Linked DNA regions of Homo sapiens: all the other regions are linked to region 2. The links come from fine-mapping of genetic effects on gene expression. A gene starts in region 2. Each other region holds a variant in brackets. All regions are shown on one strand. Distances are from middle to middle. Region 1 holds the start of VSIG10 (V-set and immunoglobulin domain containing 10). Region 2 holds the start of PEBP1 (phosphatidylethanolamine binding protein 1). Region 3 overlaps TAOK3 (TAO kinase 3).

Region 1 (10,893 bases), 34 kb before region 2:
ATCACAAGGTCAAGACATCGAGACCATCCTGGCCAACATGGTGACACCCCGTCTGTAATAAAAATACAAAAAATTGTGGCCGGGCATGGTGGCTAACGCCTGTAATCCCAGCACTTTGGGAGGCCAAGGCGGGCGGATCACCTGAGGTCAGGAGTTCAAGACCAGCCTAACCAACATGCAAAAACCCTGTCTCTACTAAAAATACAAAATCAGCTGGGCGTGGTAGCACATGCCTGTAATCCCAGCTACTAGGGAGGCTGAAGCAGGAGAATCGCTTGAACCTGGGAAGCAGAGGTTGCGCTGAGCCGAGATCGCACCATTGCACTCCAGCCTGGGCAACAAGAGCGTAACTCCGTCTCAAAAAAAAAAAAAAAAGCACAAAAAATTAGCTGGGCATGTAGTCCCAGCTAGTTGGGAGTCTGAGGCAGGAGAATCACTTGATCCGCCGGCCTCGGCCTCCCAAAGTGCTGGGATTACAGGCATGAGCCACCGTGCCTGACCATATGTGTTCTTAAGATGCAATAACACATACAGAGCAGCTGGGCGTAGCGGCTCATGCCTGTAATCCCAGCACTTTGGGAGTCCAAGACAGGCAGATCTCCTAAGGTCAGGAGTTCGAGACCAGCCTGGCCAACATGACAAAACCCCGTTTCTATTAAAAATACAAAAATTAGCCGGGCGTGGTGGCACACGCCTGTAATCCCAGCTACTCGGGAAGCTAAGGTGGGAGAATCGTTTGAACCCAGGAGGTGGAGGTTGCGGTGAGCCGAGATTGCGCCACTGTACTCCAGGCTGGGCGACAGAGCGAGACTCGGTCTAAAAACAAAACAAACAAACAAACAAACAACACATACAGAACGTCTGGTATGTTGGGACTCTTGGCCAGTCACTGACAATAATGAACTTGTAGTAGGTAACAAACATAGCCCCAGTTGTCCACCCAGTCTGCCCACCATCCATGCCCCACATCACTGGGGGGCCATCCCACTCTTTGTGAGGACTCAGCCATGAGCCCTGTTTTGGCCCATGGGATGTTGGGAATGTGACACAAGCAGAGTCTTTAAAGTGTTTGTCTATAATCACTACAGAAATGCAAATCAAAACTGCAATGAGGCCGGGAGCCGTGGCTCATGCCTGTAATTCCAGCACGCTGGGAGGCCGAGGGAGGAGGTTTCACTTGAGGCCAGGAGTTCGAGACTAGCCTGGCCAACATGGTGAAACCCCGTCTCTGCTAAAAATGCAAAAATTAGCCAGGCGTGGTGGCGCACACCTGTAGTCCCAGCTACTCAGGAGGCTGAGGCACGAGAATCACTTGAACCCAGGAGGTAGAGGTTGCAGTGAGCCAAGATTGTGCCACTGCACTGCAGCCTGGGTGACGGGGCAAGACTCTGTCTCAAAAACAAGAAACAAACAAACAAACAAACAAAAGGCCGGGCTCCACGCCTGTAATCCCAGCACTTTGGGAGGCTGAGGCGGTGGATCACCTGAGCTCAGGAGTTCGAGACTAGCCTGGCCAACATGGTGAAACCCCGTCTCTACTAAAAATACAAAAACTTAGCTGGGCATGGTGGCAGGTACCTGTAATCCCAGCTACTCGGGAGGCTGAGGCAGGGGAATCACTTGAACCCGGGAGGCGGAGGTTGCAGTGAGCCGATATTGTACCACTGTACTCCAGCCTGGGTGACAAGAGTGAAACTCTGTCTCAAATAAATAAATAAACAAACTACATGGTACAGACCCAAGTTGTCTCAGTGGCTCCAGCCTGGCCCATTCTAGATCAGCCTTCAGCTAGTCATCGATCCCCAGGCAGATCAGCAGAGCCCCCTAACCAACCACCCCAGCCTGTGGGTAATAAGCACTACTGTCATTTTGGGGTTGTTTCTTATACAGCATTACTGTGGCGATCAATAATTGATACAGAACCCAAGTGGCTTTATTTGCCTAGAAATCCAGAAGGGGTAGAAAGAAGAGGGCTTTGGCTTTGTTTCCACTGTCCCACTGCTCTCTCTGCCTCTCCCTCTCTCTCCGCCTCTCCCTCTCTCTCCGCCTCTCCCTCTCTCTCCGCCTCTCCCTCTCTCTCCGCCTCTCCCTCTCTCTCCGCCTCTCCCTCTCTCTCCGCCTCTCCCTCTCTCTCCGCCTCTCCCTCTCTCTCCGCCTCTCCCTCTCTCTCTGCCTCTCCATCTCTCTCCATCTCAAATGGCCCTAGAGTTCAAGTTCTCTCAGAAGCCCCATGGAAGAATGGGCTGGCAGTAGGGACTGTGTGCCCACTCTGGACAAAGCACTGGGAATCCCACTGTGGACACAACACACAGAAACCTCCAAGAGTTCACAGTCTAGTGAAGAAAAGAGACAATAAACTGGCAAGTACAATGCAGTGTGATAAACACCAAGATAAGGCCTCAGAGAAAGGGCTCCTAAGTCCAACTAGGGCAAATGTCAGGAAACACTTCCCCCAGGAAGCCAAACTGAGATCTGATGGACAAGTAGGAATCAGCCAAGAAAAGGTGAGGATGGGTTCCCAGGCAAACGGAGCATGTTCCAAAGCCCAGATCGGCAGCCGCAGCATGTTAGAAATATAAATTATCAAGCCTCACCCCAAAACACCTAGATCAGAAACTGCGGGAGAGCAGCAGCCCTTTGTGTTTTATTTATTTATTTTTAACAAATCAGCAATTATTTAACTTTTTTTTTAAGAGATGGGGGTTGGGGGGGGTCTCACTCTGATGTCCTGGACAGTCTTGAACTCCTGACTTCAAGTGATCCTCCCACCTCAGCCTCCCAAAGTGCTGGGATTACAGGAATGATTCATTATACCTGGCCCAGCATCTGTGTGTTAGCGAGCCCTCCAGGTGATTCTGACGCCCATTCAAGACTGACAGGTGTCCGGGTGTGAGTGTGCCTGCTCAGGCCTGTAATCCCAGGGCTTTGGGAGGCTGAGGTGGGCGGATCACTTGAATCCAGGAGACTGAAGCTGCAGTGAGCCACAATTGTGACACTGCACTCCAGCCTGGGCAGCAGAGATACCCTGTCTCTCTTTTTGTTTGTTTAAGGTAAAAAACTGTTTTTTTCTTTTTTAGAGATGGTGGAGGGGCGGCGGGTTGGGGTGGGGGGTCTCACTATGTTGCCCAGGCTGGTCTTTGAACTCCTGGACTCAAGCATTCCACTCAGACCCACCTCGGGCTCGCAAAGTGGTGGGATTACAGGCGTGAGCTGCCACGCCCAGCCAACCCTGACTCATAAAAAAAGACCGACAGGTGCTAACGGGCATTAGACTGTCACTAGGTAACAAGAAGCAAATGCAACCCATTTTGCTGAGAAGTTTCACAATTGTCCAGCCCCCTCCACAATCAAGACCCAATACAAAGAGGCTGCAGGAATAGGAAGATGGGCAGAACCTGTTGGGGTGATAAAAATGATGAATTAGTGGTGATGGCTGTATAACCCTGGACTACACTAAAATCCCCTGGGTGGTACACTTAAAAAGGGTGAATTTTGTGGCATGTAAATTATATCTGAATAAAGCTGTTATAGAAAAAATAAACTGCCACTTGCCCCTGGCAATCCTTCCCATTTAAGTGAAAGAGTAATCATTATCTGTATTTGGCCTCTTGTCTGGTTAGAAGGGGCTCCCTTTTAAAGATCTGAAGCCAGCCTGGAGCCCCAGGAAGTTCTGATTCTCTCACCATTTTGGCCACACCATTCCCAAGACTTTTCAGCCAAGTCAGGATGAAAACAAACGAACAAACAAACAAAACACCAAATTTTAAAAACTAAGCCACTTGCTGAAAGGTGGAGAATGCCATCTAATGACAGAGATTCCAAAACAGCAAGAAATGCTTCTGAGCAATCACTTTAAAAAGCAGGTGAGGGCCGGGGGCGGTGGCTCACGCCTGTAATCCCAGCATTTTGGGAGGCCGAGGCAGGTGGATCACTTGAGGTCAGGAGTTGGAGACCAGCCTGGCCAACATGGTGAAACCTCATCTCTACTAAAAATTAGCTGAATGGCCGGGCGTGGTGGCTCCTGCCTGTAACCCCAGCACTTTGGGAGGCCAAGGTGGGCAAGATCAAGAGCTCGGGACCAGCCTGGCTAACACGGTGAAACCCCGTTTCTACTAAAAATACAAAAAGTTAGCCGGGCGTGGTGGCGCACACCTGTAATCCCACCTACTCGGGAGGCTGAGGCAGGAGAATCCCTTGTACCTGGGAGGCGGAGGTTGCAGTGAGCCAAGATCGCACCATTGCATTCCAGCCTGGGTAACAGAGCAAGACTCTGTCTCAAAAAAAAAAGCAGATAAGAATTCTTTTTATTTATTTATTTACTTTTTTTTTGAGATGAAGTCTCGCTCTGTTGCCTAGGCTGGAGTGCAAGGCGTAATTTCGGCTCACTGCAACCTCTGCCTTTGGGTTCAAGCAATTCTCCCGCCTCAGTCTTCTGAGTAGCTGGGATTACAGGCACCCGCCATCATGCCCCGCTAAGTTTTTGTATTTTTGTAGAGACAGGGTTTCACTGTGTTGGCCAGGCTGGTCTTGAACTCCTGACCTCAGGTGATCTGCCCACTTCGGCCTCCAAAAGTGCTGGGATTACAGGCGGGAGCCACCGCACCCAGCCAAGAATTATTTTTAAAT[T/C]ATTAGGATTGGGAACCCAAATTATCCAGTGGCAACCGCCACAATGGAAAGGAAGATGAACTTCAGAGTTACAGATGCAACATGTGTTCATGCAACCTGCAGACCTGCCCCTTGCCTAACTCCTTGGCAAAGAAATAAAGGAACAGTGGCTTGGAAAAAAGCCGTGGTGAAACTTTAGTCTTGGAACTTGAGCTAACATTGTTTTCTCCTCCAAGGCATAGAATGACATGATCACAAAAGAAACCATTTGAAGACATTTCACTTCTCCTGGTTTGGCTTACTCCGTTCTTTTTTAAACCACTGTATCTGAAGGTGCCCTTGGAGATCATCTAGTCCAGAGATGTGGCTGCCCTGTGGGCTGGGTTGAAGATGAGATTGAGTCCTGGTTCAGTGGAAAAGAACACAGTCATCGATTTAGTGATGTCTGACATAGACATGGAAGGGGTAGTTCTTGCCTGGCAGTCCTAAACCTCCTCACTTTACTACTGAGAAAATTGAGATTTAGGAAGATTAAGTTATCACTTAAAGTCCCAAGCAAATCACTGGGAGATGTGGGATTGTCACTCAGGTCACGTTACTCTGGTCTCCTGCACCAGACAGGATGCAATGATAAAATATAGTAACAAGTTTAGAAGTCATTCATATGGTGTCCAGAGGGTCCTTCTTGCCCCCCAACCTTAAATGTACAATAGAGAACCGAAGAGGGAGTAATATAAACTCCCTGATGCTGCCCATGTATTATTATTTACAGAGTAGGAGTTATACCCAAACATTTATTTATTTTTTTAAAGCAACTTTTCCCAAGAATAACCTAGGATTTACAATCCGGGGTAGCTAGTGGATGCATATAAGTTGTCTGGCATTGAATGTCAGGAGAAAAATTTTTTTCCCCAAAAACTCCCAACTTAAAAAACAAACACACAACAAAAATACACCAAGCTCAGGAAGCCCCCTGGCATCATACACAAAGGTGAAGCAGGTCTGGGCATCAAAATAGCTGGGCAAAGGCCCAACACGGTGGCTCACACCCATAATCCCAACACTTTGGGAGGCCGAGACAGGAGGATCGCTTGGGTCCAGGAGTTTAAGACCAGCCTGGGCTCAAGCGATTGTAGAGACCGTCTCTACAAAAAAATTTTAGAAATTAGCTAGGCGTGGTGGTGCACGCCTGTAGTCCCAGCTACTTGTAGGCTGAGGTGGGAGGATCAGTGCAGTGATTGCACCACTGCACTCCAGCCTGGGCAACAGAGCGAGAGCCTGGCTCGAAAAAAATAGCTGGCCATAGCAGTGGAGATAGGTTCCCCATGGGGCGGGTGGCAGTCAGCCTGAAAGCCAGGTCATTCCAGCAGGATGACTTCATCCCAGGGTTCTTCTCACTTCCCAGGTTCCTGGTGTTCATCGTGCAGGAAACACTGCAAACAGCTGGGGAGATGGGAATACTTGACAACCACCTTTCACGTCCAGAGATGACCAACTAGGAACTGTCCTCCCCCATCACCCACACCCCAGCACAGTGATTACTCAGCCAAATGCCTGCAGGGCCAGCAGGTAACACCCATGACTGAAGGTGGCGGGGCAAATATTACAACAGGGAGAGGTGGAACAAATTTGGGCTCATATGCCCTAGATAAGAGGATGACCACTGCCCAATTCCAACTGGGAAAGCAGGCCCCGTGTTGCCAGACCTTCAGATTTTTCCAGATAAACTGGAAATCTAGAGATGTTATTGTTTTTAAATGGTTGGTTAAAAAAAAAAAAGCAAAATAAAATTGTATGAGCCTAATAATTAGGAACTCTTGGCACTTGCTGCTAAGAAGCTCCAGCATACTTTACAACCCATCTCCAGAAACGTGCAAGAGGAGACCCGTTGGGTGGAGCAGACCCGGGAACACAAAAAGTAGCGCTCTGCCTGCATCCTGGCAAACTTCACCACCTCCTGGCTCCATCTCCTCTCCCTGCACCCCAGCCTCCTCCCAGCTTGTCACACTCCCAGCACACAGTAGGCATGCACAGTAGGCATGCTGGTGAATTAAATTCAAATATATATAAATAGTTCAATCTTTTTACATTCTACATATTTTTGTAAGCACCCCTCCAATTCTTTTTTCGTAGCAAAGCAGACCATAGATGAAGCATTTCAGACCTTTTGTCAATCATGTCAAGTGTGAGGGGAAGTCTTTTGTAAGTCAGCCAAGTATTTCAAAATAAAAAGCTTTTCCAAAAGTAAAGGCGGAAGACCCCGCTTTGAAGGCGCTGGTCGGCACAGGAAGACTTGCAAAGGTGTGTAGGGAAGTCCACCGGTTACAGGTGTAAGGCGAGTTCAACCTTGGGCAGAGGGAGGAGAAAAATAAAGTGGGAGTCTCGAGTTTGAGCACCAGCGTATCAGTTACTACTAAAACCAGAACGCGAATTTACATCCGACGCTTAAAAAAAAAAATCACTTTCCCGGCACACGTGCCTCTTTACTTTGCCCCCGCACGTCGGCTCGGCTCGGCTCCTCTGCAGCCTCACCGGCTGCCCACCCCAGGAGGCTGGGGGTATCTCGCCCCGCACCGGGCGCCCGGGAAAACTCCTTCCTGCAAAGACGGCCGAGCTGCGAGCAGGAAACCAAGACCCTCCTGGGGCAGCTTCTAGGCTGGGGCCACCACGGATCCGGGCGGAGTCGGAGGGAATTGGGTCTCTCGCTGTCCCCTCCCCACCGCTGACTGGGAAAACTCAACTTTTCCCTCCAGATCGCGGCCCCTTACCTACGGCGACCCAGCCGGCCAGGAGCGCCCCGAGGCAGACGAGGACGCGGGGCTCGGGCGCACTGCCGCCTGCGGCCATCTCGCCCCAGATCCCGGCTCAGGAAACGCAGGCTCGGGCTGGGCTGGACGTGTGTGCCCCAGGGCCCCGGGGCCCGGGGTACCGAGGGCTCCTCCCAGGTCCTCGGAACGGCAGAGTGGCCCCACTTCCTCGGCCCCCAGGAAGGATGCTTGGCTGAGCCGAGTGTCCAGGGCCGGCAGCGGAGCTCGGCTGCAGGCTCGGGTCCCCGCTCCCGAGCGCCCTGGCCGGGGAGGGAGGGCGCACCCCGCCCCCTGCGCCCGCCAGCCTACTCCTGCCGGCGGAAAACAACAGGAGCGGGATCCCTCCCGCCTCCCAGCCAGGCGGGAGCCCAACTTCCTCTACCTTGGCCCGGGAGGAGGGCTTTCTGCCGAGGGCGCGCCGAGCCGGGTCCCGCCGGGCCAGGGGCGGGGCGCGGAGGCTGGGCCCTCCCCAGTCCACTCCGCCCGGGACAGCAGTACCGAGTCGCGGGGACAGCGGGCGGGACGGAGCCCTGCAGCTGCCGCAGGACGCAACCCCCGCCGCTGCCCCGGGCTGCAGAACCCGGAGGAAGCGGTTGCCAAGCTGCAGAACGCAGGACCCCCCTGGCAGTCCCCGCTGAGCGTCTCGAGGGATTCCGGTCTGTGTCCCTGGGCGCAGGGCGGGCGCCAAGGCCGCCATCGCTTCCTTTCCTTACCCTCTGCAAAAGGGAGCCAGAGAAAGATGATCCCCTGACTTTCAGCCAAAGCAGCCACGAGACTCCGGTTCTCCAGTGAACTGGCTGGGACCACACAGTGACAGCGAGAGCCAAGGAGTCCCCAGGACGTGTTTCTCAAGAGTTTTGTTTTTGCTTTTCCCCTTTTAGTTCTCCCACCCCTTACCCAGTCAGATTCCCAGGCTAAGCTCCTCTCTTCCCTGCCATGCCCTCATCCCATTCTGTCCTGGGGAAAATGCGGCTTTGATATCCTCAGGAAGAGCCATCCATAAAACAGCCCTAGGAGAAACTTCCTGTTTCAAATAATAATAATATGGCAGGGCGTGGTGGCTCACACCTGTAATCCCAGCACTTTGGGAGGCCGAGGTGGGCGGATCACAAGGTCAGGAGTTCGAGACCAGCCTGACCAACATGGTGAAACCCTGTCTCTACTAAAAATACAACAATTAGCCGGGCATGATGGCGGGCGCCTGTAATCCCAGCTACTGGGTAGGCTGAGGCAGGAGAATCGCTTGAACCCAGCAGGCGGAGGTTGCAGTGAGCCGATATCACGCCATTGCACTCCAGCCTGGGCGACTGAGCGAGACTCCATCTCAAAATAAATATTAACGTTAAAAAAAAATCATTAGTTCTGTTGTTCAACGGTCCCCTTATTGAAATGCTTCTTCCATGAGGAAATCCTCTTGAAACCACTTTAAAAAAAAAATGTTTCTCCTGGTGAACTGAGCAATGAAGCTGAACAGTTCTGCCTTTTTTACTTTTCTGTTTTTTATTTTTTTGAGACAGGGTGTCACTCCAGTTGCCCAGGCTAGAGTGCAGTAGCACAATCATACCTCGCTGCAGCCTCAAACTACCAGGCTCAAGTGATCCTCCCACCTCAGCCTCCCGAGTAGCTGGGACTACAGGTGTGCAGCACCACGCCCAGCTAATTTTTGTAATTTTAGTAAAGACAGCGTTTCTCCATGTTACCCAGGCTGGTCTCGAACTCCTGACCTCAAGTGATCCACCCGCCTTGGCCTGCCAAAGTGTTGGGATTACAGGTGCGAGCCACCGCGCTCAGCCCTTTTTTATTCTTTGCTCAAATATTTTTAAATAACTGTTCATCAGCCGGGCACGTTGGCTCATGCCTGTAATCCCAGCACTTTGGGAGGCCGAGGCAGGTGGATCACCTGAGGTAAGGAGTTCGAGAGTAGCCTGGCCAACATGGTGAAACTTCGTCTCTACTAAAAATACAAAAATTAGCCCGGTGTGGTGGCAGGCGCCTGTAATCCCAGCTACTTGGGAGGCTGAGGCAGGAGAATCGCTTGAACCCAGGAGGTGGAGGTTGCAGTGAGCCGAGATCGCGCCATTGCACTCCAGCCTGGGGAGAAGAGCGAGACTTCGTCTCAAAAAAAATAAATAAATAAAAAATAAAATAAAATAACTGTTCATCAGATTCTTGACAGGAATTTTGTTTGTTTGTTTTTTGAGACGGAGTCTCGCTCTGTCGCTGCAAGCTCCGCCTCCCAGGCTCATGCCATTCTCCTGCCTCAGCCTCCCAAGTAGCTGGGACTACAGGCTCCTGCCACCACGCCCGGATAATTTTTGTATTTTTAGTGGAGACGGGGTTTCACCGTGTTAGTGTGGGGAAAAGCAAGAGAGATCAGATTGTTACTGTGTCTGTGTAGAAAGAAGTAGACATGGGAGACTCCATTTTGTTATGTACTAAGAAAAATTCTTCTGCCTTGAGATTCTGTGACCTTACCCCCAACCCCGTGCTCTCTGAAACATGTGCTGTGTCAAACTCAGGGTTAAATGGATTAAGGGCGGTGCAAGATGTGCTTTGTTAAACAGATGCTTGAAGGCAGCATGCTCCTTAAGAGTCATCACCACTCCCTAATCTCAAGTACCCAGGGACACAAACACTGCGGAAGGCCGCAGGGACCTCTGCCTAGGAAAGCCAGGTATTGTCCAAGGTTTCTCCCCATGTGATAGTCTGAAATATGGCCTTGTGGGAAGGGAAAGACCTGACTGCCCCCAGCCCGACACCCGTAAAGGGTCTGTGCTGAGGAGGATTAATATAAGAGGAAGGCATGCCTCTTGCAGTTGAGACAAGAGGAAGGCATCTGTCTCCTGCCCCTCCCTGGGCAATGGAATGTCTCGGTATAAAACCCGATTGTACGTTCCATCTACTGAGATAGGGAAAAACCGCCTTAGGGCTGGAGGTGGGACCTGCGGGCAGCAATACTGCTTTGTAAAGCATTGAGATGTTTATGTGTATGCATATCTAAAAGCACAGCACTTAATCCTTTACCTTGTCTATGATGCATAGACCTTTGTTCACGTGTTTGTCTGCTGACCCTCTCCCCACAATTGTCTTGTGACCCTGACACATCCCCCTCTCGGAGAAACACCCACGAATGATCAATAAATACTAAGGGAACTCAGAGGCTGGCGGGATCCTCCATATGCTGAACGCTGGTTCCCCGGGTCCCCTTATTTCTTTCTCTATACTTTGTCTCTGTGTCTTTTTCTTTTCCAAGTCTCTCGTTCCACCTTACGAGAAACACCCACAGGTGTGGAGGGGCAACCCACCCCTTCAGTTAGCCAGGATGGTCTCGATCTCCTGACCTCGTGATCCACCTGCCTCGGCTTCCCAAAGTGCTGGGATTACACGCGTGAGCCACCACACCCGGCCTGGAATTTTTTTTTTTTTTTTTTTTTAGACAGAGTCTCCCTATATCATCCAGGCTGAAGTGCAGTGGTGTAAT
Region 2 (10,893 bases):
CACTTTAGGAGGCCGAGGTGAACGGATCACCTGAGGTCGGGAGTTCGAGACCAGCCTGACCAACATGGAGAAACCTCATCTCTACTAAAAATACAAAATTAGCCGGGCATGGTGGTGCATGCCTGTAATCCCAGCTGCTTGGGAGGCTAAGGCAGGAGAATCGCTTGAACCCGGGAGGCGGAGGTTGTGGTGCGCCGAGATTGTGCCATTGCACTCCAGCCTGGGCAACAAGAATGAAACTGTGTCTCAAAAAACAAAACAAACAAACAAAAATAGTCAACTCTGATTGGTCCAGGTCATGCTGTTGAGTCAGGCCATTTCATAGGTGGTTTGAGAAGCCTTTGAATTGGATGAAGGTGGGAGGGGTGTCAGTGGAAGGGCCCCTGAGGATGTCCTAGGGGCTGTGGGCATGGCAGGTATTCTGCAGCTTGTCTTGTTTAAGACACAAAGCAAGCCATTCTTCACAAAGATTGTCATGATTCTGGTTTGAATGATCACTAATTTTATTTTTTTTGAGAGAGGGTCTCACTCTGTCACCCAGGCTGGAGTGCAGTGGCGCGATCTTGGCTCACTGCAACCTCCACCTCCTGGGTTCACGCCATTCTCCTGCCTCAGCCTCCCGAGTAGCTGGGATTACAGGTGCCCACCACCACGACTGGCTAATTTTTGTATTTTTAGTGGAGACGGGATTTCACCATGTTGGCCAGGCCGGTCTTGAACTTCTGGCCTCAAGCGATCTGCCCGCCTCGGCCTCCCAAAGTGCTGGGATTACAGGGGTGAGCCACTGCGCCTGGCCTGAATGATCACTAATTTAACATTGCTAAAGTCTGCATGATGAGGCTTTCCCGAGTTTACGCATGATTTGACATACCTGGTTTCCTTTTGGATGTGTGGTCGTCTGCATCAACCAAGGACTGTCGGAGATTAAGTGAGAACATAGAGGGTATTTTTTTTTTTTTTTTTTTTTTTTGAGACAGAGTCTCCCTCTATCACCCAGGCTGGAGTGCAGTGGCGCGATCTCGGCTCATTGTAAGCTCCGCCTCCCGGGTTCACGCTATTCTCCTGCCTCAGCCTCCCGAGTAGCTGGGACTACAGGTGCCCGCCACCACGCCCGGCTAAGTTGTTTGTATTTTTAGTAGAGACGGGGTTTCACCGTGTTAGCCAGGATGGTCTCGATCTCCTAACCTCGTGATCCACCAGCCTCAGCCTTCCAAAGTGCTGGGATTACAGGCGTGAGCCACCGCGCCCGGACATAGAGGGTATTTTTAAATGCTTTGAAATTCTCAAAGAGAAAAGGGAAAAAAAAAGTCTCAATAGGAAAAATGTGACAAACGGAATCCCGGCGACCTGTTAATGGTTAATTCTCACAACAGTGTCTCAGTGCATATCCTTGGCCAGCAGCCAGCACCTCGGTCCCCTGGAGTGGCAGTTCCAAGTCACTGGCATGGCCACAACAGTTTCTGAACTCGAGCTAAGGACAGAACTTTGTTTTTGTCCAAAATTCCCTCATTATTATTTTTGTTTTGTTTTGTTGTTTTTTGAGACGGAGTCTTGCTGTGTCGCCCAGCCTGGAGTGCAGTGGCACGATCTTGGCTCACTGCAACCTCCGCCTCCCGGGTTCAAGCGATGCTCCTGCCTCAGCCTCCTGAGTAGCTTGGATTATCCCAGGCGCTCACCACCACGCCCGGGTAATTTTTGTATTTTTCACAGAGACAGGGATTTCACCATGTTGGCCAGCCTGTTCTCCAACTCCTGACCTCAGGTGAACCACCCGCCTCGGCCTCCCAGAGTGCTGGGATTACAGGCATGAGCCACCGCCCCTGGCCCCAAATTCCCTCATTAAACAGTTTCTCTTGCAGAAGCACAATGAGTGAAATTGGCATGAAGCCATTTCACTAAATAACCACATCAGTGAATTTCCTGGTCCTCACTCAACAAACAAAAACAACTGGTGGTTTTCCAGGCTGGTTCATTTGAGTCTACCCTCAACCAGCACCTGCCCAAGCTTCTGGCCTAGAAGAGGCACACGTGGCAGAAATACAAGCAGACGGCAGAATAAATAGCATCAATGAAAAGAGTCAAACTTTGTAAAACATTTGAAGAGATTCATTCTGAGTCAAATATGAGTGACCATGGCCTATGACCCAGCCCTCAGGAGACCCAGGGAAAATGTGTGCAAGGTGGTTGGACACAGCTGGGTTTTATACATTGCAGGGAGACATGAGACAGCAATTAAATACATATAAGATATATATTGGGGCCAGCTGTGGTGGCTCACATCTGTAATCCTAGCACTTTGGGAGGCTGAGGCCAGTGGATCACTTGAGCTCAGGAGTTCGAGACCAGCCTGGGCAACGTGGCAAAACCCTGTCTCTACTAAAAATACAAAACGTAGCCAGGCATGGTGGCACACACCTGCGGGAGGTGGGAGGACCGCTGGAGCCGGGAAGTTGAGGCTGCAGTGAGCCGTGATTGCACCACTGCACTCCAGCCTGGGTGACAGAGCGAGACCCTGTCTCAAACACAAAACAAAACAAAACAAAACAAAACAAAACAAAAAAACAAAACCTTGGTTTAGAAAGGTAGGATAACTTGAAGTGGGAGGGCTTTCAGGTTATAGGTAGATTTTAAAATTTTCTGATTCACAATTGGTTAAAAGAGTTACTATCAATAGAAAGGAATGTCTGGGTTATGATAAGGGGTTGTGGAGTATCCCCCCCAAAAAAAAGCCTCCAAGTAGCAGGCTTCAGAGAATATATTGTAAATATTTCTTTCTTTTTTCTTTTTTTTTGAGATGGAATCTCACTCTGTCGTCCAGGCTGGAGTGCAGTGGCACAATCTCGGGCTCACTACAACCTCCGCCTCCCAGGTTCAAGCAATTCTCCTGCCTCAGCCTTCCTAGTAGCTGGGATTACAGGTGTGTGCCATCACGCCTGGCTATTTTATTTTATTATTTTATTTTATTTTATTTTATTTTATTTTAATTTTATTTTTGAGACGGAGTCTCGGTCTGTCACCCAGGCTTGGAGTGCAGTGGCGCGATCTCGGCTCACTGCAAGCTCGGCCTCCCAGGTTCATGCCATTCTTCTGCCTCAGCCTCCTGAGTAGCAGCTGGGACCACAGGTGCCCGCCACCACGCCCAGCTAATTTTTTTGTATGTTTTTAGTGGAGACGGGTTTTCACCGTGTTAGCCAGGATGGTCTCGATCTCCTGACCTCGTGATCCGCCCGCCTCGGCCTCCCAAAGTGCTGGGATTACAGGCATGAGCCACCGCGCCCGGCCACGCCTGGCTAATTTTTATATTTTTAGTAGAGACAGGTTTCACCATGTTGTGCCACTGCATCCCAGCCTCGGCGACAGAGCAAGACTGTCTCAAAACAAACAAAAAATAAAGTGTGTATTTTTTGACCTAATTAATAAAAGTTCCCATGTAATAAAATTTTCCAAAAACAGTCTTTCAAGTTTTTAAAGATATATGTATAAGGAAGTTCATTTCAGTGATATTTGTAAAAGGAAAACAATGAACAAAACAGAGTACATCAAGAGGCTTGTTGAATAAATGATGGTGCATCTAGAGAAGTCATTAAAATGTTGAAGACTTTTTTTATTTTGCTTTATTTTTGTAGAGATAGGGTCTCACTCTGTCGCCCAGGCTGGAGTGCAGTGGCACAATCACGGCTCACTGCAGCCTCAAACTCCCAGGCTCAAGTGATCCTCCTGCCTCAGCCTTGGTAGTAGCTGTGACTACCGGCACATCCCTCCATACCGGGCTAATTTTTGTATTTTGTTGTAGAGATGGGGTTTCACCATGTTGTCCCGGCTGGTCTCAAACTCCTGGACTCAAGTGATCCTCCTGCCTCAGCCTCCCAAAGTGCTAGGATTAGAGGCCTCAGCAACCGCACCTGGCCTGACGACCTATTTTTGATATGACTATTTTATAATGGTAGGATATAATGCAATCTTTTGGTGAATAAACAACAAAATCATCTATACTCATATTATTTTTAAATAGGAAAGATATACCCTAAATGATTACTGACGTTTATAACAAAGTAGTGGGATAGAAGGGGATTTCTACTTCTTTGGGTTTTTTTCTTTGATTTTCTACAATGAACTCGTATTATTTCCTAGTAAGAATGTAAATCAAGAGACAACTTTTTATTCCATGGGAGGAATTATCAATGTCAAGAGTCAAAACAGATAAGAACTGTTAAATAGTGCTTATTGGCTGGGCGCGGTGGCTTATTGCCTGTAATCCCAGCAGTTTGGGAGGCTGAGGCAGGCGAATCATGAGGTCAGGAGTTCGAGACCAGCCTGGCCAACATGGTGAAACTCTGTCTCTACTAAAAATACAAAAATTAGCTGGGCGCGGTGCCGCCTGCCTGTAATCCCAGCTACTCGGGAGGCTGAGACAGGAGAATTGCTTGAACCCGGGAGGCAGAGGTTGCAGTGAGCTGAGATCACGCCACTGCACTCCAGCCTGGGCGACAGAGCAAGACTCCGTCTCAAAAAAAAAAAAAAAAAATAGTGCTTATCATATTCAGCAAAAAGCAAGCAGCTTGTGGTCACAGTAAGAGCAGTTTTGGTATGAATAAATATGGTTTAAAATTGTTTTTCAAAAAACAAACATAAAAAACCAAAACCCAAACATTTCTCAGGAATTTTGTGAGGACGAATTTTGTGTGTGGAGAAAACGGACAAATACATTTCCCCATATATTTAAATGCTCAAAAGTTCACTCAGGTGCTCTCACCAGGCAATTACTATGACAAGTGATCACGTGCGAAAATACAGAGAATCTGGCTCGTTTTAAAGTGCAGGAGAAAAGCAAGGCCTTACTGTTTCTGAATTTGCTGTGTGTGTGTGTGTGTGTGTGTGTGTGTGTGTGTGTGTGTATGAGAAGATGGGATCTGGCTCTGAAGCGCAGACAGGAGTGCAGTGGCAAGATCGTAGCTCACCGCGGCCTCAAACTCCTAGATTCAAGAAGTGATCGGCCGGGCGTGGTGGTTCACGCCTGTAATCCCAGCACTTTGAGAGGCCGAGGTCAGGAGATCAAGATCATCGTGGCTAACACGGTGAAATCCCGTCTCTACTAAAAATACAAAAAATTAGCCGGGCGTGGTGGCGGGCGCCTGTAGTCACAGCTACTCGGGAGGCTGAAGCAGGAGAATGGCGTGAACCCGGGAGGCGCAGCTTGCAGTGAGCCGAGATCACGCCACTGCACTCCAGCCTGGTCAACACAGAGAGACTCCGTCTCAAAAAAAAAAAAAAAAAAAAGTGATCCTCCCGCCCCAGCCTCCGGAGTAGCTAGGACTACAAGCATGCACCACTGTGTCTGGCTTTTTTCTTTTTTTCTTTTTTTTTAAGTTTTCTGTAAAGACGGGGTCTTGCTACCTTGTCCAGGATGGTCTCAAACTCCTGGGCTCAAGCGATCTTCCTGCTTTGGCCTCCCAAAGTGCTGGGAATACAGGCATGAGCCACCGCGACAGGCCATGTTGCTGAATTTGGAAAGTGGAGCAAAGAATCATGCAAAAAATTAAGAAAACCAAAACGCAACCAAGGCGAATTCAATTGCATTTTTTTTTCCCAGCGACACTTTCTGAGACACGAACCTCTCTCTTCGGCGAACCTATTCCAGGGCGCCCTTCATTTTCATTTCTTGAAACAACAGCCTTGCAGGCCGAGCCGCTGTTCCCGAGAACTCGGCAGCCACAGGGAGCAGGTTGCATGGACCCAGGAGCGCGAGAGGCCCTGCTCTGCCAGCTTCGGCCAATCAGAGGCCAGGGAGCGGTGGGCGTGACGTGGGGCGGTGCGCGGGGCTGGGCGGCGGCTGAGGCGCGTGCTCTCGCGTGGTCGCTGGGTCTGCGTCTTCCCGAGCCAGTGTGCTGAGCTCTCCGCGTCGCCTCTGTCGCCCGCGCCTGGCCTACCGCGGCACTCCCGGCTGCACGCTCTGCTTGGCCTCGCCATGCCGGTGGACCTCAGCAAGTGGTCCGGGCCCTTGAGCCTGCAAGAAGTGGACGAGCAGCCGCAGCACCCGCTGCATGTCACCTACGCCGGGGCGGCGGTGGACGAGCTGGGCAAAGTGCTGACGCCCACCCAGGTACACCGGGCGGCGGGCGTGCAGCGAGCGGCACGGCGCGGAGGCCTGTGCCGGCCTCCTGGGTGGGACCCAGCGGAGACAGGGCCAGGGGCGGTGGGGAGGTTCAGCCTGCGTGTGTCGAGGCCCCCCCAGGCCAGAGGTCCCGGGGTCCATGTCCCATGCCTGGGGGCCACCCCGAGCACCGGGAACCCGGCCTGTGGCGTGGCCAGGCAGGTTCGGCCTGCGGCAGAAATTCATTCACTTTTCCCGGGCTTCAGACCCAAGAGGGACCTAGGTTCGGAAACAGGCCGGATCCCCCTCTCCCCCCACAGGCCAGGGCGCTGGAGAGGGACGTCGCCGGGACAGAGTAGGCTGTGGCTGCCCGGACGCCCCCAGAGCTTCCCCTAGGGCCTCAGCATTTTAGGCCTGGTTTTGGAGGGCTGAAGCCTCACCCGAGAGCCTGTGACGCATTATGTAACTGGCGATGAGCGCGCCGGCCGATTTCTCCTTTGTTAAATGGGTCGAGAGCGTCCAGCCGGTACGCTGGAGGGCAACGGTTTAGTTTTGGTCTTTGACCTCCCACGCCCACGGCTGGGGCTGCCGAAAGTGAAGAAACTAGATTTGCAGACGCCACTGCTAGTTGGTTATGAAGCTCCGGGCAACAGCGTAAAATAAACTGCCCCGACCTTACATTGTTTTGGATGTTCACAGAATTTAATTTTTTTGGATGTTTAAATATGTAGTGCCCATCTAACACAGCCTCCCTTTTCCTGCTCCCTGCCCGCCTCTCATCACCTTGGCTTTCTCCTTTTCTTTGCACTTTGAAACGTACAGTTAATGCAGATTTCACTTCAGCAGGCTCCAGGTAACCTCCTGATCACCAAATCCAGAAACGCTGTGATTCCGGACAGACAATGTAAGGGTGTCGTTGAGAGGGGACTCAGTGCCAGGGTTGGAATCCCAGCCTTATCTGTTTCTCTTAATAGTGTGCTGGGATACTAGCCCCATGGTGTTGTTGGGACTGAAATAATATACAGCCTGGGCAACATAGCAAGACCCCAACTCTACAAAAAAAAATTGGCCAGGTGTGATGGTGTGAGCATGTAGTTCCCAGCTGCTCAGGAGGCTGAGGTGGGAGGATCGATCGATTGAGCGCTGGAGGTTGAGGCTACAGTGAGCCTTGATAGCGTCACTACACTCCGGCCTGAGTGACAGAAGGAGACCTGGTCTCAAATAAAATACATAACGTATATAAAACTCCAGCTCCTGGCTCTTACAGTCAATACAGGGTCATTGATTTTATTAAAAATCTATTCTGTTTTGTCTTTGGAGAGTCTGAGATCAAAGAAAGAGTATTGGTTTCTTCAGCATTTCTTGTTTTTGAGACAGAGTCTCACTCTGTCGCCCAGGCTGGAGTGCAGTGGGGTGATCTTGGCCGCCTGCAGCCTCTGCCTCCCCAGCTCAAGTGATCCTCCCACCTCAGCCTCCCGAGTAGCTGGGATTACAGATTCCCGCCACCATGCCCAGCTAATTTTTGTAGTTTTAGTAGAGGCAGGTTTCACCGTGTTGGCCAGGCTGGTCTCAAACCCCTGACCTCAAGTGATCCTCTCTCCTAGGCCTCCCAAAGTGCTGGGATTACAGGCGTGAGCCACCACACCCAGCCAGTTTCTTCAGCATTTCTGACTTTTTTACTGCAAACTGGTTCCTTCATACAGGTTAAGAATAGACCCACCAGCATTTCGTGGGATGGTCTTGATTCAGGGAAGCTCTACACCTTGGTCCTGACAGACCCGGATGCTCCCAGCAGGAAGGATCCCAAATACAGGTGAGAGGTGAGAAAGACGAGAAGAGCAGGTCATGCAGAGATGAGTTATCGGGTGTAAGTCCCTTGCTGGACACAGAGAAGTAGACCTGGTTTGGGATGCCCCCACCCATGCTTAAGCCAGAGAGTGCCTTTCCTGCCCTTTTGCCCCCCTACAGCAGGTGTCTGTAACTCACAGCCGAGAGCCATATCCACCTGTGGCCTGTTTTTATACAGCCCCATGAGCTAAGAATGGTTTTTACATTTTTATTTAGTTATTTATTTTTTATTTTTTTGAGACAGAGTCTCAGTCACCCAGGCTGGAGTGCAGTGGCATGATCTTGGCTCACTGCAACCTCCACCTCCCAGGTTCAAGTGATTCTCATGCCTCAGCTAACCGAGTAGCTGGAATTACAAGCGCCCACCACCATGCCTGGCTAATTTTTGTATTTTTAGTAGAGACGGGGTTTCACCTTGTCCAGGCTGCTCTCGAACTCCTGACCTCAGGTGATCTGCCCGCCTCAGTCTCCCAAAGTGCTGGGATTACAGGTGTGAGCCACTATGCCCGGCCTGGTTTTCACATTTTTAAATGATTGGTGAAAAATTGAAAGAAGAATAGTACTTTATGATGTGGAAATTACACAAAATTTACCTGTCAGTGTCCATCAGTTAACGTTTTATTGGAGCAAAGCTATGTGTCATCTGTGGCTGCTTTCATGCTGCCAAGGCCAAGTTGAATAGTTGCAACAGAGACTGTGGCCCCCAAAGCTTAACAAATTTATTCTCTGGCCTTTTAGTGGAAAGTTTGCTGACCTTTGCTCTAGAAAATGTCAGAGGGTGGGAGGGGCTGGGTCTGCTCTTCTGCAAACACATGAGGTTCGTGCTGGCCTCTAAGAAAGTGAGGACTGGGCCGGGCGCGGTGGCTCATGCCTGTAATTCCAGCACTTTGGGAGGCCGAGTCGGGGGGATCACGAGGTCAGGAGTTCAAGACCAGTCTGGCCAACATGGTGAAACCCCGTCTCTACTAAAAATACGAAAATTAGCCAGGCATGATGGCAGGCGCCTGTAATCCCAGCTACTTGGGAGCCTGAGGCAGAGAATTGCTTGAGCCCAGGAGGAGGAGCTTGCAGTGAGCCGAGATCGTGCCACTGCATTCCAGCCTGGGTGACAGAGTGAGACTCTGTCTCAAAAAAAAAAAAAAAAGAAAGGACTGTTGTTCGTGGCTGTGTTGTGGCAGCCAGCATGTTCTTGATGCCCAGTTGCTGACTGTGCAGTGAATGTTCCCTGATCTCCTGTGGTGCTGACATCCCGTGTTTCTTCATGCAGAGAATGGCATCATTTCCTGGTGGTCAACATGAAGGGCAATGACATCAGCAGTGGCACAGTCCTCTCCGATTATGTGGGCTCGGGGCCTCCCAAGGGCACAGGTTAGTAAAGGTTGTTTTTGGTGGGAGGTTGGGGAGGGAGCTCGGGGGCACATTAGGATTGACCCAATGCTTTTCTTTTGAGAGCCCTTAACCCTGCTGGAAATAGCATCTCAGCTTACCTCTAGGGCAGCTGCCTTCAGGGCACACATTCAGACCTGCAGCAGTGTCAGGTGGCTAGAGCCTTGGGTTCTGGACAGACGGACCCTTTGTGTAGAGCTGTCTCTGCACCCCTAGCCCTTTAGCAAGCAGGGAAGTTGGTGAGAGGGAAGCACTGTTGCAGAAAGCTTAGCATGGCCTTTTGGGGCTGCAGTGAGTGGAATACACAGTTAAACTATCTCAAGCCTTTGCCCGGGGTGATCTTTGAGTTTCTTTAAAACATTTCAGAAATGATCATAGTTTCCAAATTAACTATATAAGGTTGCTTTCTGTATTTGTTTCTGAAAAAGTCTAGCTGGGTATATTGAAAACAGATTTGGAAGACTTCAGTAGAACTATATTGAAGGCGCACACACACACACACACATTGTATTGTGTAGTATCGTGTTATAGCTATTATATATAAAATACATGTAGATATTTAGAGATAGAAAGAGAAAGCCCACCGTATTGAAACTTTCCAGGTTGGGTAAGTGCCACCTAAGCTGATGGTGAGATATGCATTCTTATTGCCTGGTGTTCAGTTCAGGATGTTTCCATTTGGTGGAACTGTCATAATCCTAGCTTTTTGTACAGCTTATCCAGCCAGGAGTTAACATGAAGAGGTACAAGAACATCTCTGACATGGACAGTTGGTCATGGGCTCATGGTTTCTCTGTAGACCCGGAAGCTTCAGATGCCTTTAAACCCTCTCACGCATGCATAGTAGATGGTAAAGGGACAGATTTCCCAGGGACCTAGTAAGTTCTCTAGGGCAGTTATAAAATTAGGCAGGTTAATTATGGGAAGCTTACCCATGAGAATAAGGCAATTCTCTCAAGTAAGAGCTGTGTTCTCATTTTTTTTTTTTGAGATGGAGTCTTGCTCTGTCTCCCAGGCTGGAGTGCAGTGGCACGATCTCGCTCACTGCAAGCTCCACCTCCCCGGTTCATGCCATTCTCCTGCCTCAGCCTCCCGAGTAGCTGGGACTACAGGTGTCCGCCACCATGCCTGGCTAATTTTATGCATTTTTAGTAGAGACGGGGTTTCACCGTGTTAGCCAGGATGGTCTCAATCTCCTGACCTTGTGATCTACCTGCCTCGGTCTCCCAAAGTGTTGGGATTACAGGCGTGAGCCACTGCGCCCGGCAGAGCTGTGTTCTCATTTTTAAAAAAGCCTCAGTAACTCATTTTCTTGTTGTTTTTTCCATATTCTTGTAATATGGTATAATTTACATGGTAACAAAATCCACAGATCGGAAGGGTTCAGTCAGCAAATGTGATCAATGCATACACCCATGGAAGGTAGCAGCCATTGGAAAGACAGATGACATTTCCATCGCCCAACGACATTCTCATGTGACCTTTTTACTTAAATTCCCCCAGAGCTAACCATATTCTGACTCCTGTCTCCATAAATCACTTTCACTATTCTTTTTTTTTTTTCTGAG
Region 3 (10,893 bases), 75 kb after region 2:
AAAAAAAGAAAGAAAATTTTTCTTTTTCAAAGTGAGAAAATTTGGGCCCTGAGAAGTTAGGTGATTTCCATAGCTAATTAGTAGAAGAGCTACGGCTGCAACTCAGGCTTTAAAAATTTTTTTCTGCCAGGGGTGTGGGTGGTGGTGGTTATTTTCTGGTGTCCTACTACCATAATTATCTTTCTAAAATACAGGTATGATCATTCATTGCAACAGATACTACATGTCATTCCCCCATTCCAACTTCTTTTTTTTTGAGACAAAGTCTTACTCTATCACCCAGGCTAGAGTGCAGTGGTGCAATCTCAGCTCGCTGCAAACTCTGCCTCCCAGGTTCAAGTGATTCTTGTGCCTCAGCCTCCCCAGTAGCTGGGATTACAGGCGTGCACCATTACGCCCAACTACTTTTTGTATTTTTAGTAGAGATGGGGTTTCACTATGTTGGCCAGGCTGGTCTCAAACTCCTGACCTTAGGTGATCCACCCACCTCAGCCTCCCAAAGTGCTGGGATTACAGGCATGAGCCACAGCTTTCAGACCCAATCTCTCTCTCTCTCTTTTTTTTTTTTTTGCCTTACTTGAAGCACTAGGAAGTAAAGGAACTGAACCCAAGCCTTCTTTGTGGTTACAGATCACTAAGTGACTAAGTTCTGGCCAGTGAGAGGTAGGCAGAAGTTCTCAAGGAAGGTTTTATTTTCTAGAATAAAAAGGCAAGACACATGAGGACAAGGTGTTTTACCCTTTGTTCTCTCTCCTTCTTCCTGCCTGGAATGAAAACTTGAGTCATGGCAATGTAGCAGCCATTTTATGACAAAGACAATAAAAGCTACATGCTAAGGATGGTGAAGTAGAAAGAGAGAAAGAGCTTGGGTCGATGACGACATTGTTGAGCTGCTTAGAGCTTTGGACTGCTTACGCCACTTCCTTTTCCAATGTCCTGGACTTCCTATTACATGAGATAAACTCTTACCTGTTTAAACCTTTTACAAACAGATACACTCTACATCTTAATATCTCACTGTCTCTTAGATAAAGTGTAGCCTTTTACAGCCAGGTTCCTGCTTGTATTTCTAGGTTTAAATCTAGTCATTGCTACTCCTCCTTCCTACACAATTCTAGGTACATTCTAGGTAATTCTAAACCCGTGCATACCTTTCACACCTCTAGGCCTTTGCCTTCACATCTCTATGTTCTCTCTGCCTGCAATCCCATCTCCTCATTGTTTTTTTTTATTTTTATTTTTTGGGACAGAGTCTTGCTGTGTCGCCAGGCTGGAGTGCAGTGGCGCCATCTCAGCTCACCGCAACCTCCACCTCCCGGGTTCAAGCAATTCCCCTGTTTCAGCCTCCCAAGTAGCTGGGATTACAGGCATGCACCACCATTTCCAGCTAATTTTTTGTATTTTAATAGAGATGGGGTTTCACCATGTTGGCCAAGATGGTCTCAATCTCCTGACCTCGTGATCTGCCCACCTCAGCCTCCAAAAGTGCTGGGATTACAGGCGTGAGCCACTGCACCCGGCCTCCTCATTGTTTTTAAAAGCCCACTGTTCTCCAAACCCCTACAACTGGAATGCCCTCGGACTCTTTTAAAAGGACAATTTTATTGTTCTCAAAAATATGTTTACTTTCAACACTCAAATAACACAGAAAAATGTATAAAAAAAGAAAATCGGCCAGGCACGGTGGGTCATGCCTGTAATCCCAGCACCTTGGGAGGCCGAGGAGGGTGGATCATCTGAGGTCAGGAGTTCGAGACCAGCCTGACCAACATGGAGAAACCCTGTCTCTACTAAAAATAGAAAATTAGCCGGGCGTGGTGGCACATGCCTGTAATCCCAGCTACTAGGGAGGGCGAGGCAGGAGAATCGCTTGAACCAGGGAGGCAGAGGTTGCCATGAGCCGAGATCGTGCCATTGCACTCCAGCATGGGCAACAAGAGCGAAACTCCGTCTCAGGAAAAAAAAAAAAAAAAGAAAGAAAATCACCCGAAATTCTACCATCTCGAAATAAATACATAAATATTAAGTTACAGAATATCATTTTAGACATGTCCCTTTCTTTCTCTCAGAACAATGAATAACTAGAAATCATTTTACATGGGAATCTGATTATACAAGCTAATTTTATGTATAATCGATTTAATTAAGGTATATTTGAATTTAACAGGATTAGAAGAGACTGAATTAAAACGATTGCATAGGCTGTATGCAGTGGCTCATGCCTGTAATCCCAGCACTTTGGGAGGCTGAGGCGGGTGGATTACTTGAGGTCAGGAGTTTGAGACCAGCCTGGCCAACAGGGTGAAACCCTGTGTCCACTAAAAATAGAAAAACTAGCCAGACATGGTGGCGTGTGCCTGTAATCCCAGCTGCTCAGGAGGCTGGGGCAGGAGAATTGCTAGGGAGAATCTCAGGAGGCGAAGGTTGCAGTGAGACGAGATCGCGCCACTGCACTCCAGCCTGGGCAACGGCGCGAGACTCTGTCTCACACACACACACACACACACACACACACACATGCACAAATTAAAAAATAAAACAATTGCTTAACTTTAGTTGTAATTTCTTCACCAAAAGAGTTATCTGTTCCTAACAGATCCTCTAAAGTTAAAAAAAAAATTATTAAAGGCTTTACGAGATTGAAGTTACTTTAGTTCTTTTGTCCTATATATTTTAAGAAATGTTATTGTCCATCTACTTGGAAAGATAAGGAAATTAGTATGCATACGTTTTTCCTGCCCTTAGATTTTTCTAATTACATTATTTTTACATTGCAAATGTTTCTAACATTTACATCTGTCCTTTAACCATTTCAATAATTTTACCTCAGTTGTTTATTTAAATGGATTAAGTGTGAAAGTGATGTTTTAATGTCAGGGCAAAAATGCATGGAAAAGATGTATTATTGAAAAATATCTGGGAGTAAGTAGATAGCTTAGCTGGGGGAAAAAAGGTAGATTTTTACCTCACTCCTTGTAACAAATTTTTGCATAACTCTCCCCACCTCCTTTCCACAAAACATCAGCATAAAGAATGTCAAAAGAGAAATAGGAAAAAAAAAATCCAAGATCTACTATAAATTAAAAAGGAAATACAAATGGCTTTTCAACTTACGAGAGAGATGTTCAACATCTCCCATAATGTGAAATAGCAATTAAAACTATAGTGAGAAAAGTTTTCACTGATCTGACAAAGTTCAAAAAGTATCAGTCTTCATACTTTCACGGTGGGACTATAAATTGGTGCAACTGCTTTGAAGGACAAATGGGCAATATCTATCTAAATTTAAAATCCACATTGATGAGCAATCCCACTTCTAGGAATTTCTTTATTTTATTTTTATTTATTTATTTTTTTGAGATGGAGTCTTGCTCTGTTGCCCAGGCTGGAGTGCAGTGGCACGATCTCGGCTCACTGCAAACTTCGCCTTCCGGGTTCAAGTGATTCTCCTGCCTCAGCTTCCCGAGTAGCTGGGATTATCGACGCATGCCACCATGCCCAGCTAATTTTTGTATTTTTAGGAGAGATGGGGTTTCACTATTTTGGCCAGGCTGGTCTTGAACTCCTGACCTTGTGATCTGCCCACCTTGGCCCCACAAAGTGCTGGGATTACAGGCATGAGCCACCGTGCCCGGCCAGAATTTATTCTTTAGATATTCTTATACAGGGACAAAATGCCATATACACAAAGATATTCATTACGGCACAGTTTGTAATAGCAAAAGATTGGAAACATCCTAAATGCGTTGGTTAAACAAATTATGGTCCATCTAAGAATATTATGGAGCCATTAAAAAGAATGAGGTAGCTTTGCATGTAGTAATACAAAACAATATCCTAAGCACACTGTAAAGCAAAAAGAAAAATCAGGGTGGAACGGTTTTTATGGTTTGCTGTCATTTGTGCAAAAATAAAAACAACATTTACTTTTATATGCATAAAATATCACTAGAAGGAGAGGTACAAAATAGGTGCAGTGGTTGCTAGTGAGGGGGCCTGAAATGGGAGGGAGATTTCTTTTTCATGTTCTACCTTCTCTTATTATTTTTTGAGACAGAGTCTTGCTGTTGCCCAGGCTGGAGTGCAGGGGCACAATCTCGGCTCACTGCAACCTCCTAGTTGATCAAGCGATTCTCCTGCCTCAGCCACTCGATTAGCTGGGACTACAGGTGTGAACCACCATGCCTGGCTAATACTTATATTTTTAGTAGAAATGGGGTTTCTACGTGTTGGCCAGGCTGGTCTTGAACTTCTGGCCTCAGGTGATCTGCCTGCTTTGGCCTCCTAAAGTGCTGGGATTATAGGTGTGAGCCATTGCACCCGGCTCTTCTTCTTCTTCTTCTTCTTTTTTTTTTTTTGAGACAGGGTTTTACTCCCATCACCCAGGCTGAAGTGCAATGGCAGGATCTCGGCTCACTGCAACCTCTGCCTCCCAGGCTCAAGTGATTCTCCTCCTTGAGCCTCCGAAGCAGCTGGGACTAAAGGCGCATGCCACTGCACCTGGCTAATTTTTGTAGAGATGGGGTTTTGTCATGTCCAGGCTGGTCTTGAACACCTAGGTTCAAGTGATCTGCCTGCCTCAGCATTCCAAAGTGCTGGGATTACAGGTGTAAGGCACTGTGCCCAGCCCCAGGTTGTACCTTCTACTGTATTTTTCCTTTTGGAAATTTGTGAGACCTATTTAAAATGAAGAACATACAGCTTCTTTAGCCATGCAAAATAAATAAATAAGTATTTGGGGAGGGGCCTCTTTAAATTCAATATTTACCATCAGCCCTTTTACCAGTTTCTCCAGTCCCTCATTCATTCTTCCTGCTTGCCTTCCTCCCTCTTTTTCTTCTTTTTGCTTCATCTCTATATTGGCTAGATTCTGTTATTGAGCAATTTTTAAAAGGAAAGCGCCGAAAGGTTGCATTGCCTAAATGTGTGGGGCTCGAAGATGTCAGCTGCCTTTATAATTTAAGAACATCTTGGCTGGCTCACAATTCCTGGCTTATATTTTATTTCCCTTAGAACTCTGCAAACACTGTTCTATTGTTTTCTGGCTTTGACTGTTCCTGAAGAGGTAGGTCTGGAGTCAGTTGGTTTTTCCACCCCAAAATAAACTTTTTCAGTCTGCTTGTATGAATCTTTCTTTATTCCTAGAGTTCAGGGACTTCACCAGGATATGATTTACTGATCAATGAAGATCAGTTTCATGGTCCCCCTCTTCATGCATGTATCTGCTTAAATGTTACCTCCTCGAACGGCCTTCTCCTTACCTAAAATAGCAGCACCTGTCAATCTTGATGCTTGTCTAATTTATTTTTCTGCACAACACTTAACATCAACTGGCACTATAACATATATTTATTTCTTTTCTTTTTTCTTTTTTTTTTTTTTTTGAGACCTAGTGTCGCTCTGTTGCCCCGGCTGGAGAGCAGTGGTGCTATCTTGGCTCACTGTAACCTCCGCCTTCCGGCTTCAAGTGATTCTCCTGCCTTAGCCTCCTGAGTAGCTGGGAATATAGGTGCCTGCCACCATGCCCAGCTAATTTTTGTATTTTTAGTAGAGACGGGGTTTCGCCATGTTGGCCAGGCTGGTCTCGAACTGGTGACCTCCTGATCCTCCCACCTTGGCCTCCCAAAGTGCTGGGATTACGGGCATGAGCCGCCACGCCCGGCCTACTT[A/T]TTTATTTCTTACTCCTTCTTGTAAGTTTCACAAGGGCAGGCACTATGTTTTTATTGTGTACTACTGTATTCTCTGCGCTTAGAATAGTACTTGACACCCAGCAGACAATCAGTAAATATTTGTTGAATAAATAGTTGGCCCATTTGATTTGGTCCATCAAATCAAGATGGAATCAAATCAAAGGAAGATCCAAACATTTCCAGAAAAGTTTTCTTCAAGGATATCTTTAAAAATCTTCTCCTCCATGTGTTTTGTTTTCTTTTTCAGGAATAATCGGTTGGCATATATTAGATCTCCTGTGTCTTCCAAATGTATCATTTTCTTTATATTCATCTTTAGAAGTTTTATTTTTTGCACTTAATTCTATTTTATTTCCTTAAGCCTATTCACCATTGGAAACATCCTAAATGGGTTGGTTTACTACATGTTCGTTGCTTATAATATGATTTTTTAAACTGTTATGTTTTTTCTCTTCCATTTTTTTCTTTACCTCTACCCATTTGCTTTTTATATCCTTTTGTTGTCTGTAACCCTTAACTTTTAACATCGCCCAAATTTATTCATATTTTCCTTTTTTTTTTTTTTTTAAAGAGATGGTATTTTCACTCTATTGCCCAGGCTGGAGTGCAGTGGCACAATCATACCTCACTATAACCTCAAAATCCTGGGCTCACGTGATCCTCCTGCCTCAGCCTCCTGAGATGCTGGGATTATAGGCGTGAGCCACCATACCCAGCTCCACATTTTTTCCCCTTTTATGGTAGTAATTTTTATGTCTTGGTTTTTTGTTTGTTTGTTTTTAAGATCTTTGTGTACTTCAAGGTAATAAAGATATTATTGTGTGTTTCTGGTGTTTTGTTCTGGTTGCTATTTTCCCCTAAAGAAACATGGAATTGTTGCTAAGTAGTTCATGTTTAAAACATGTAAGGGCTCCACAACAAAGGAGAACAAGATCAAGCTCTTTGTCCTGTTGCTTCTCTTACCATACTCCTGTGGCCTACCGCTCACAAGAAGTAAAAACTTGTCACCTAGCCAAGGTGTTCTTAAATTATAAAGGCAAACATTTTTAAGCTTTACAAATTGAGGCAATACAACTCTTCTGAGTTCTTCTTAAAAACGAACAAACAGAACTGCTATACAATAAAAGCCAGCCATTCTAGAGACGGAAGAAACAGAAAGGGTTGAAAAACAAACATGCAAAAGAAGGATTAAAGAAATTTGGACTATTGTGCGCCAAATAAAAGAAAACACTTCTACTGTAAAAGATTTCCACATACTACACTGATATTGATGCAACACACTGCCTATGTATAAAGTCTACAGTAAAATATTACATGAAAAGAGATGCTTGGTGATAATTAAATCAAATAAATGTGGTTAACACGATACTCTTATCACTAACATGTCATAATACTATGTAAATGTCTACTCTATATAGTTATCATACACCTTCACTGCCTGAGGATTTGGCAACAACCTAACTGAAAATCCCAGAGTTGGTGTTTGAACCACCAGCCAGCTCTGTCCTGAGACCACTGGATTAATGTTTATGCAGATGTTAGGCCCAGGAACATCACAATGATGACTAGAGCAAGGAGGAGAAATATTATTTGTTATAAGGCAAAAAAGGAACAGGGAGGGAGGGGAAAAAATAGAAAAGATAGGGAAAAACCTATCCACAGGGAATACATAGCACATAACGTTGCAATAATCTTGCTATTTCTATGCCTAGCTACTTATCTCAGGATAAATGACAAGGCAGCACGTCCTAAACCACTTTGTCATGATGAGCTGCCACAGGAATGATTTATTATATTCCATTATAACATGACTTTAAATCCCCCTCCTCAAATATAAATTTGAAAAATTACCCTTAATAGTTCTGCTGATGTTGGCCTTTCCTGAGGTATTTTCTGCAAGCAGTAATCAACAAATCTCCTAAAGGAGTCTGTCCTGTGTGTGCAAATACACAAAAGAAAATAAACTCAGGGTCTGTAGAGCACACTGATTACTTAAAACAATTTTCATTCAAGGGAAAATTTTGCATTTAAGGAGATTTTAAAAAAATGCTTTGGAATATCAGGATAACTGGAGCATTTTCAAGTTACGATATCTAAAATTCTTTTGGATAATGAGTGAGGACAAGTTTCAAGTTAGTCAACATATTAATACATCTTAATATATAAGGAAGGTCAAATCATAATATACATCAGAAAACAAAAATACTATGTTTAAATAAAAGTTTTATATACATTTTTCTCTCCAAAGACAACAATTCTCATAGTCTCAACTCTATATTCTTAATTACCAATTGTTAATTCCTCTACCACCCACAATCTATAACAAAGTAGTAAAATTTGAAGCATGAGGGATGGAGAACCCAGGAGTAGGCTTCCTGAACAAAAATTCTTCCTATCTTAAAAGTTCCATTTTATCCGTTCTTCTTTAATATTGCCCCTTTTAAAATAACTCTTGTGGCCCAAATAGTTATAAAAATGTCATACTTTTCAGCAAGGAACACTGTATCTGAATAGATAATGTATGCTCTGTCTCAACACATTTAAGTGTACATATAGTTTAAAAAAAAAAAAGACAACTGGAGAAATAATGACATCATAGAGGGCCCCTTATCTCTGCTGAGAAGTGATATCAGCTGAGATGATCAATACAAGACCATCATGACCTGGGACAATAGACTTGTTAGGAGGGTAGCAGGGCATGTTCCCTGCAGGATTTTGGTTACTAGACACATTAAGAACACAGTGCAAGCCATGGTGAAGGCAAAAATAAGAAAATCTATGCATGTGTGCATGTGTAGACAGTTGATGCTTGTGAGGCATCAGTGTCACTTGTAACAACATACAGTGAAGGAAAGAAATGCTTTCTAGGTCAGATATTTAAAATGTAATGTAATAAAAATGTCAAATACATACGGTGATTTTCTTAGAGATTTAAAATGATAGCAGAGTCTTACCATTCATTAGACTGTAACGTTGGGGAGTCATTCTGGGCAATGTGATATAAGGCACTCATTGCATTCATGTTGAAAAGGGGCGGCTTCCGTTCCGCTGGAAGAGGAAAGAAACACAATAAAGTAGTTCTTGAAGGAAACCAGGCAGACAGAGAAATAAGAAACTATGAGCAAAGCTTTGCGGCTAAATCAATAGCTCATTACTGTCATCATGCCACATAATCCACTTATTTTAATCTCTAAGGTTGGCCCAAGATAGCCATTCAGAAGAAGCTGCCGGACATTAAATGTACATTGGCAAAGCTCCTAACAGAACTCATTTCAAAAGAGTGAAAGAAAAGTTTTTTTCTTTTTTTCACATAGCTTCAAAAAATTGGCTTTTGCATATTTTCCCACAATAGGTATGAAGATCTTTGCATGTGCGTTTTAGCTCAAAAATATATATTCTCTCCTTGAAGTCTGGGTATTTGGTGAAAAAGAAAAAGAAAAAAATTCATATTCACTTAAAAAAGTCAGAAAGCAAAGAAACATAGAATAAGGAAAAAAGATTACTATAAAATGCAACTTTTTTTTTTTTTTTTGTGACGGAGTCTTGCTCTGTTGCTCAGGCTGGAGTACAGTGGCACGATCTGCAACCTCTGCCTCCTGGGTTCAAGTGATTCTCCTGCCTCAGCCTCCTGAGTAGCTGGGACTACAGGTGCCTGACATCGTGCATGGCTAATTTCTTTCTTTCTTTTTTTTTTTTTTTTGAGATGGAGTTTCGCTCTTGTTGCCCAGGCTGGAGTGCAATGGAACGATCCCAGCTCACTACAACCTCCGCCTCCCAGGTTCAAGCAATTCTCCTGCCTCAGCCTCCTGAGTAGCTGAGATTACAGGCATGAGCCACCATGCCCGGCTAATTTTGTATTTTTAGTAGAGATGGGGTTTCTCCACGTTGGTCAGGCTGGTCTTGAACTCCCAGCCTCAGGTGATCCACCCACCTCAGCCTCCCAAAGTGCTGGGATTACAGGCATGCGCCACTGCGCCCGGCCTAATTTTTGTATTTTTAGTAGAGAGGGGGTTTCCTTATATTGGCCAGGCTGGTCTCGAACTCCTGACCTCGTGATCCACCCGTCTTGGCCTCCAAAAGTGCTGGGATTACAGGCGTGAGCCACTGCACCCAGTCCCATAATGAAACATCTTAAACATCACTAACAAAATGGCCGGGCGCGGTGGCTCACGCCTGTAATCCCAGCACTTTGGGAGGCCGAGGCGGGTGGATCACGAGGTCAGGAGATCGAGACCATCCTGGCTAACACGGTGAAAGCCCGTCTCTACAAAAAAAAAAAAAAAAAAGAAATACAAAAAAATTAGCTGGGCATGGTGGCAGGCACCTGTAGTCCCAGCTACTCGGGAGGCTGAGGCAGGAGAATGGCATGAACCCGAGAGGCAGAGCTTGCAGTAAGCCAAGATCGCGCCACTGTACCCAAGCCTGGGTGACAGAGTGAGACTCTGTCTCAAAAGAACAACAACAACAACAAAAATCACTAACAGAGCATGAGAGATAAGCCAATTATATTCAGTAAATACTGTCTGATGCCTGATTCAGGCCAAATAATTGCTAGGGGTGACAGTAGAGAGAGAAATGGAAAGGAGGAAGAGAACTATAAATTATAAATAAAGTCTGGTCCATCCCACTCTAAAGAGAAACTCAGTGAGTCAGGCATTTATTTTTTAATTATTTATTTTTTGAGATGAGGACTTGCCCTGTTGCCCAGGCTGGAGTGCAGTGGCACAATCAGGGCTCACAATAGCCTTGACCTTTCAGGCTCATGAGATCCTCAACCTCTTGAGTAGCTGAGACTACAGGTGTGTGCCACCACGCTGGACTAATTTAAACAATTTTTTTTTTTTTTTTGTATAGAGGCTGGGCGCGTTGGCTGACACCTATAATCCCAACACTTTGGGAGGCCGAGGCCGGCAGATCACCTGAGGCCAGGAGTTCGAGACCAGCCTGGGCAACATGGTGAAAATTGTCTCTACTAAAAATACAAAATTAACCGGGCATGTTGGCACAAGCCTGTAATCCCACCTACTTGGGAGGTTGAGGCAGAAGAATCACTTGAACCCAGGAGGTGGAGGTTTCAGTGGGCTGAGATCGGCCCCTGCACTCCAGCCTGGGCAACAGAGTGAGACCCCGTCTTAAACCAGGCTGGTCTTGAACTTGTGGGCTCAAGCTATCCTCCTGCCTCAGCCTCCCAAAGTGCTGGGAG

The links. PIP is the estimated chance that this variant, and not a neighbour inherited with it, causes the effect.
Region 1: its variant is fine-mapped to the expression of PEBP1 in transverse colon (GTEx, PIP above 0.99).
Region 3: its variant is fine-mapped to the expression of PEBP1 in whole blood (TOPMed, PIP above 0.99).

Annotation. Positions count from the first base shown.
Region 1 is chr12:118,096,220-118,107,112 of GRCh38, forward strand. It overlaps VSIG10 (V-set and immunoglobulin domain containing 10), which reads right to left and starts at 7,792. Exons shown (of 9, transcript NM_019086.6): 1 at 7,374-7,792. The coding sequence starts at 7,452. LOC124903029 (a long non-coding RNA gene) reads right to left here and starts at 7,363. Exons shown (of 2, transcript XR_007063478.1): 1 at 6,770-7,363; 2 at 5,386-6,048. RefSeq lists a silencer at 7,636-7,885 and an enhancer at 9,527-10,242. The variant T/C (reference allele first, on the strand shown) is at 4,627.
Region 2 is chr12:118,130,245-118,141,137 of GRCh38, forward strand. It overlaps PEBP1 (phosphatidylethanolamine binding protein 1), which reads left to right and starts at 5,880. Exons shown (of 4, transcript NM_002567.4): 1 at 5,880-6,100; 2 at 7,795-7,904; 3 at 9,207-9,307. The coding sequence starts at 5,966. LOC101928274 (a long non-coding RNA gene) reads right to left here and starts at 5,748. Exons shown (of 4, transcript XR_945409.4): 1 at 5,613-5,748. RefSeq lists an enhancer at 5,675-6,175 and a silencer at 6,168-6,257.
Region 3 is chr12:118,205,373-118,216,265 of GRCh38, forward strand. It overlaps TAOK3 (TAO kinase 3), which reads right to left. Exons shown (of 21, transcript NM_016281.4): 10 at 8,645-8,738; 11 at 7,542-7,623. Among named protein-coding and RNA genes, the nearest start is that of PEBP1, 75 kb to the left of the region's middle. The variant A/T (reference allele first, on the strand shown) is at 5,670.